Homo sapiens: one gene and its partner. The protein of the gene in region 2 interacts with the protein of the main gene of each other region in a pairwise test. Each region holds a gene or a part of one and is shown on either strand. Other genes may lie near its edges.

Region 1 (3,660 bases), 430 kb from region 2:
TATTTAGATAGATAAATGTTTCTATCTACAGATATTTAGATGTCTTTGTTCATCTGGAGAGTTCCAATTTTACCCCTTTATGTTTATAGGATTAGATGGTTCAGGTGGGATTTTGATGGGGGTACAAGGTAGTGGTTTTGTAGTTTCTAACATTCAGGGAAAAGTAAATGGTTGATGGCCCATACAATATTCTCTCTTTATCTAAGGACTTTCTTTGCCCTCAGTAGGCTATCTCTGTAGGATCCAAAGAGTTATTTTGAACCCCAGACCTGCATCTGGCTTGTGGGATAGAGGCATTTTGTCTTGTTAATAGGTCTTGTGGTGGTGAATAATTAGATTGAAAGATTAATGATAGTGCTTTAAATCTGAGTAATATAATTTCATGTTGGGATTGGTGCTAAAAGAAAGGTGGTAGTTCTGCACTCATGAATCACATCTTGTAAATGACAGAACACTTTACAACATACAATATACTATTGCTCCACCATGTCGTCAATAATTCTGTTTAGTAGATTCTTCATATATAAAAGAAATCGAGAAATTTTATTTTGGCCAGGAGCTGAAGTTGGTTGTTTAGTAGTAGTAGTTTGAGTAGTGACCGAAGTAGTAGTCTGGTGTGTGGGTGCAGCTGAAGTTTCAGAAGTGTCAGGTGCAAGAGTAGTTGGGGAAGAATTAGGTGTGGTAATTGGGGCAGCTGTGGTCTCTTGTGGAGCTGGGGAAGACGGTGGAGCTGGTGTAGTTGCAGAAGGTGTGGGTGGGGCAGCTGTGGTCTCTGGTGGAGCTGAGGCGGATGATGGGTCTAGGGTAGTTGCAGAAGGTGTGGGTGGGACAGCTGTGGTCTCTGGTGGAGCTGAGGAAGATAGTGGAGCTGGTGTAGTTGCAGAAGGTGTGGGTGGGGCAGCTGTGGTCTCTGGTGGAGCTGAGGAAGATGGTGGAGCTGGTGTAGTTGCAGGAGGTGTGGGTGGGGCAGCTGTGGTCTCTGGTGGAGCTGAGGAAGATGGTGGAGCTTGTGTAGTTGCAGAAGGTGTGGGTGGGGCAGCTGTGGTCTCTGGTGGAGCTGAGGAAGATGGTGGAGCTGGTGTAGTTGCAGAAGGTGTGGGTGGGGCAGCTGTGGTGTCTTGTGGAGCTGGGGAATTCACTGGTGCTAATGTAGCTACAGAAGAGCTTGTGTTAACATTTTCTCTTGAAGATATGGTGGTGGCATTCTGGGGAAGAAAAGTCACATTTGGAAGGGTAGTAATTTTGGTGGAAGCTGATGGGAAAGTCACAGATGGAATTTGGGTTGTAGCCACTAAGGTAGGGTTGACCACACTGCTATTTTTATCTGGATGTTTAGGTGGCTGGTGAGGATTTGGGAATTTGGGGGGGTTATTAGGTGAAGGTGGAAGCTTAGGCCTACAGCGTTTGTGCAGACATTTATAGGACTTTCTAATGAACGGCTTCTGGTGAGCTAGCAGTCCAGGATAATGTGGTAATTCAAAGTGAGATTTGGGTGATTGGTGATGATGCCTTCTGTGACGTAGTTCATGATCCCTTTCTCGACCTTCACTGAACTGCAGAAAAGAAAGAAAATGTAAGAAATGAAAAAAGTATCCATTTATCAATCAGGTGATCACTGCTGACCATGAGATGAGCGGTATTTGTGGAATGCTGGGATTAGAAACCAGAGTACATTATTGAGTCAAGTGATTATCTTCCTAATTTCACCAAGTTTCAAGAAAGAATTGCTACTAGAGAGTTTTCTTTTGTCAAATGTCTACTCTCTAGATAGCTGGGATGAATATATTCCTGTGGGTTCTAGCTTGAATGCTTAGCTGGATACGAACTTTTGTGCTTACAGTTCCTCTCTTCTTCCTCTGGTGGAAAATGGTCAAGTTACTGCCTGAGGTCCCATCACAAAAGCTTCCTGCTTGCTCAGCCTGTTCACAAAACTTTAGTCAAAGACATTCAACTGAGATCCAGGAGCCCTTTCTAGATTACACCCCTCATATCTACCATCATCAAAATACGAAACAGCCAAACAACAACAAAGCCCCAACAAACAAAATATCCCACCCCGGCTTCATGTTCTCCATATTTCAGGAAACAGTTTTTAGCCTTTATAAATTGGAGAAACAACTTTGGTCATTACCTTTTAACTTTATTGTTTAAAAAATTAGAATTATAGAATTCATGATTCGGGGGTTCATGAGTCATCTGATTTTTAGAGAAAATTTGCATGTTTATGCATTTTGTCTGGATAGAGCACCAATGGTTTTCATGATTTCTGAAAGGTGTTTACATCTGAAAAGAACACTGATCCAGTCCAACTGTACATCTGATACTTGATCTTTTATCAATACACCTGCTGAAAGGCTTTCTAGTCTATGCATCTAACCTCTTCTGATTAGGAACTCACTACTGTAATTCCTAAGGCCGCCTGGTAGAGAGTTCTTGACACTGAATGTAGGTTTGTTTTTTGGGATTTTCATTCTTAACTGAGTAGAATTTTCTTCATGAAGATTTCCATCCTTTGGTCCTAATTTTGTTTTGGCAGATTTACAGAAGATCCAGAAGTCTTTCAAAATTTGAAAATAACTTCTATGCCATGTGGGTCATCATTTTGCAAGATATTTTTATTTCCTTTAGCCATTGCTGACATTATTTGAGTTAGAGTACCATCACTGTTTCAGTTTCTTATCTGTAAACATACTTCATGCCTTTTATATCCCTCTTCCCTGTATTCAATCTCATACTACATTTTTTAGTGATCAGTTATATTAAATTGGAGAAAAGAAATATAACAGGATAAATGAGAACATCCCAAACAAGGATAGGTTACGTTTTCTTCCTAATGATGTTCACAGAAGCCCTTTTTAGATGACCAAATGGGTAAATCATTCCAGTCGCAAGTTATAAAGCTTTCTTTGGACACAAAGTTTAGTGCAGATGAAGTGACAACTTCTGAGAGACTAGCTGAGTTGTTTAACTAAGATAACTTCCTCAGAGACTAATATATCCAACCTCAAAAATAGCTTCTAGGTACTGGGCTTTCAGAGGTGAATGAAACAGGGACCATCGTGAGGCTCATGTGATTGAGGGAATGAACCACATAACTATTTCAAAGCAAAGAGGTCATAGAATTAGATTTTGGATCTGGAATTTAATTTAATCCGAATCATTTCATAAATGAATAAACTGAGATCCAGGCATATTAAGTGACTTGCCCAAAGTCATTCAATTATTCAATGCCAGACATAGGACAGACTAAAACCTCCACTGCTGGTCTGTTGCAGTGTGTTTCAAATATGTTCCTCTAAGATCTGGACATTCTCCACAACATCCATCAATACAAGAAAGTATTATTTGTTTAGAAAATTAAATTGTCCAGGAAATTTTAATTCACAACTGAGAACAACCAATAGCTAACATAATGGCTTCTGATACTCACATGACTTTGGTATTTTTCCATAAATCTCTCTTAAAAGGGCATAGGTTTTCAGAATCGGTAACACTGACTCCAGGAATCTCTGAGGAGATCCTTTCCATTACAGGGGTAGTTGTTTTCTCATATAAAATAGAACAGGTCATATTGTTCAAACAGATCTTTCCCTGGAGATTGAATATGCAATCCACATAATTAAGGACCTGCTCTGACTGAAGCAGGATTGAGGGCCTCAC
Region 2 (3,760 bases):
TAAACAGACCAAGAGGATGGGAGTAAGAAGGTAATGAAGAAAGGCAAGCTTGAGTTGGATTATATGGAATGAGTAAAGGGTGGTGTTGGGAGCCTATAAAGAAATAAAACAGAGAGGAAAGCATGTTAAAAATGCAAACAGTTCAACACATAGGGAGGACAAAACTGGAGAAAAGATGACCACTTAGGTTGTTGTGACACTACAGGGGACTTATATAATGACATTAAGAATGCTAATTAAGGTACAGTGTAAAGAGATATTAGGAAAGTAGAATGAAAAGCAATGGAGACTGGCTTTATAATAAAGTCAGTGACTATGAGCCAGAGTTCTATTACAGAATCCACAGATGGTGTAACCCTGAGATTAGAACATTAGTGATATTGGGTAGCGAAAAATAAAATGAAGAGAATTCACAGGGAAAATGATTGTATCTACTTTGAGAAGTTGAACTGGTGAAGATTATTCAATATTTCAAATAATATTATTCAACAAAGTTAGCCTCATCTGGGACTCTGATATGCTTTTATAATTATGTATATGCAAGTGTATCCAGTTCCTTTGCAGATATAAAAAAGTATAGCAGGTTACTTATTTCTAAATTACAAACGTAAATAAAAGCATTTCCATTGGAAAATACAATTACCACAAGACTTACAGTTACATGGCATTTTTGGCTGTTAATTGCAGTTATAAAGTAATTCATTAATAGGTAATTTAAAAATTTTTTTCTAATCTCTCTTTCCTGTCATTTGTGATATAACATTACAGTAACATTTTTCATCTAATTATAATAAAATGTCCTGCTCTTAAACAGCCCTACATCTCTATCATGAAAAGCAGAACCCAAGATTTATGGCATTTACCATATTATTTATTCGTTTATTTTGCTTCACTCAATTAAATGGAAACTTCTACTATAGGACTAACTATAAAAATTATGTATTTTGAAGTTTTTCTATTACCTAATATATAAATCCTACTACAACTCTTTTTATGATACAAAAGGCATGAGAATTTTACTGTTGTTAATGATTGTCAATTCTGTTGCAAGTACAAAATAAAAAAGGGTTCTAAGAAATTGGTCTTCTTTTACTAACACATAAACTGATAGATAAACGAACATAGATAATCAATATACAATTAATGGTTATGAAAAACATATTTCCCAAGTAACACATCAATAAAAATTTGGAACAGTAAACTCTTTCTTTTCTGCCATAACACAAATGAATGAAAATGAGTTAAACAAATTAGTAAGATTGAGATGACTAACTCTTATACAGTATATGCTTTGCATTATAACAGCACTGTTTTAAATGATGGAAAGGTCAATAAAAAAGTAATAAAATAGTTTCCTATTAAGAAGAAAGTAAATTTTTAAAAATAAACCTTTATAATAATATATTTACCAAGAGAGAATTTATCAGTATCTTCTTGTAAAATTTGAACTCCTGGTTTAAGTTAAATGTAGAATTAATAATTAAGAAAGTAGATATTAGGTATCTAGACAAGGAAATAAAAAGAGTTAATTGAGGTCCCACCATCAGAGAGGATGTAATACATTGCCATATTCCACATAATTTACTTTGCGTGATGATTGCTGGTGTTAATTCATAGGAATTGAGATCTGGAAGTCATCTTCAGATCCCGAGTACAAAATTGTACACATTACAGCATCAGGGCAAATAACTAATGCATGCGGGGCTTAAAACCTAGATGATGGGTTGATAGGTGCAGCAAACCACCATGGCACACGTTTACCAATGCAACAAATCTGCATGTCCTGCACACGTATCCCAGAACTTAAAGTAAAATAAGAAAGTAAAATAAAATAAAATAAAATGAATTTGTGTGTGAGTTTTTAAAGGAAATATTTATTAGATAAATCATCTATGCTAATTTGAACAGTCCTATTAGAAATTATGGTATTCTATAGGTAATATACAAAAATGTAAATTATTTATTTAGGCAAATACGCAATTCAAGTAAACTAGATTTAAATAGATAATATACATTTTCATAAGTGGGTTACTATTGATTTTAGCAAACAAAAGCTTATGCTAATATATAATATTAGATTGTACTTGAACATATTACCTTTTACTCAAGAGGAGAGTCAAGAAGTCAGTGAAGCTGAAGTGAAGTCTCAAGAGATGTCCTTTTCTATATGGCTGATGTATTTAAACACGTTGAAATCTCCCTTTTGTTTTTCTAAATAGCATCAATTAGGAGATCATATGATTGAGACGGAAAGTAATGCCCAAAATCTGTCTCTACAAATTCTAAAAATAAACTTAACCAGGTGATTTTACAATAGATCATTGTGAAGACAAAGCAACCGGAAAGCGAATGGACCCATCACATGCTAATCCCAGTGTTAGTCTAGCCCTGAGTGAGTCAGACAACGGAAAAGCACGCTGGAGGAAACCAGGCATAGAAATGATTGCAGTGATAAAGATGTTTCTGTAGAATACCATCTACTACTTTTCAACAAATATATGTCCAAGATGGAACAACGCTATGTCAAAAATAATACTTACCATGTTATCAAAATTTTACACATTCTCTAGTAAATAGTGATAATTGGCATAATAAAATTGGAGTCATTCTATACTTCAAAAGTTTTCCTACAAATCATTATTTATCTTGTATTTTTACCTTTACATTGACTTTGAGTGTTTTAAGTAATAAAGTGAATGTAAACATTTGCCAAAATTCAATCATCTTTTGGATATCATATGATAAAAACATTCTCATATTTAATGTCAAAAGATTCTAGGTGCTTGGTCACATATCTCTCACATAAAACTGATTTCTTATGTTTAGAAATTTGAATTTACTTCCCTGGAGTTTTCTGAGGTTCATATATATTTATAGAGGCCATTTGTTGAAATAACTATATTAGACAGAAAGAGAAAAACAGAATTTTAATTTAATTCATAGGCAAACATGTATAAGCATTCACCTACTCTCTACCGGTTGGAGAATTTGATGTGCTAAGAACTGAGTATTAAAAACTCTTTTCTAAAGTTCAGATAAGTTATACAGCCCAGTCCATTGTTCCTCAGAGGGTGCCACATGCGACCATCATGATCAGCATCAGCTAGTAGCTGTTGAAATGCAGATTCTTATTCTACTTTTCCAAACTTACTGAGTCAGAATCTTGTGGTGTACACCTGGAACCGGAATTTTAAGAACATGTCCAGGAAACTCTTTGTGTACTTTAAAGATAGAAAAACTACTTAAGAGATTTATAAACGCATGGTCTTTAGCTTGATCCCACTAATTAGAAATTGTGTTTTAAATTTGTGTCTGATTCAGGGAAGGAAACAACGCCCACCAGGGCCTGGTGGTGGGGAAGGGAGGGAGAGCATCAGGGCAAATAGCTAATGCATGTGGGGCTTAAAACCTAGATGATGGGTTGATAGGTGCAGCAAACCACCATGGCACACGTTTACCAATGCAACAAATCTGCATGTTCTGCACACGTATCCCAGAACTTAAAGTAAAATAGGAAAGTAAAATAAAATAAAATAAAATGAATTTGTGTGTGAGTTTTTAAAGGAAATATTTCTTAGATAAATCATCTATGCTAATTTGAACAGTCCTATTAGAAATTATGGTATTCTATAGGTAATATACAAAAATGTAAATTATTTATTTAGGCAAATATGTAATTCAAGTATATTAGATTTAAATTGTTCTTTTGGCATGAAATTTCTAAGCATCAGAGATATAAGGTCTCTTCTCTGGCACAAAA

Evidence for each region. Proteins that work in one complex are often made in the same cells at the same time.
Region 1: the proteins of HTN1 (region 2) and MUC7 interact in a two-hybrid assay, tested with the Homo sapiens proteins (one study listed by IntAct).

What each region holds. Positions count from the first base shown.
Region 1 is NC_000004.12:70,478,692-70,482,351, reverse strand, and holds part of MUC7 (mucin-7 precursor), read right to left. Parts: intron 1,554-3,660; coding exon 474-1,553; 3' UTR 1-473. UniProt on the Homo sapiens protein: May function in a protective capacity by promoting the clearance of bacteria in the oral cavity and aiding in mastication, speech, and swallowing. Binds P.aeruginosa pili.
Region 2 is NC_000004.12:70,048,833-70,052,592, reverse strand, and holds the start of HTN1 (histatin-1 isoform 1 precursor), read right to left. Parts: upstream 2,156-3,760; 5' UTR 2,098-2,155; intron 1-2,097.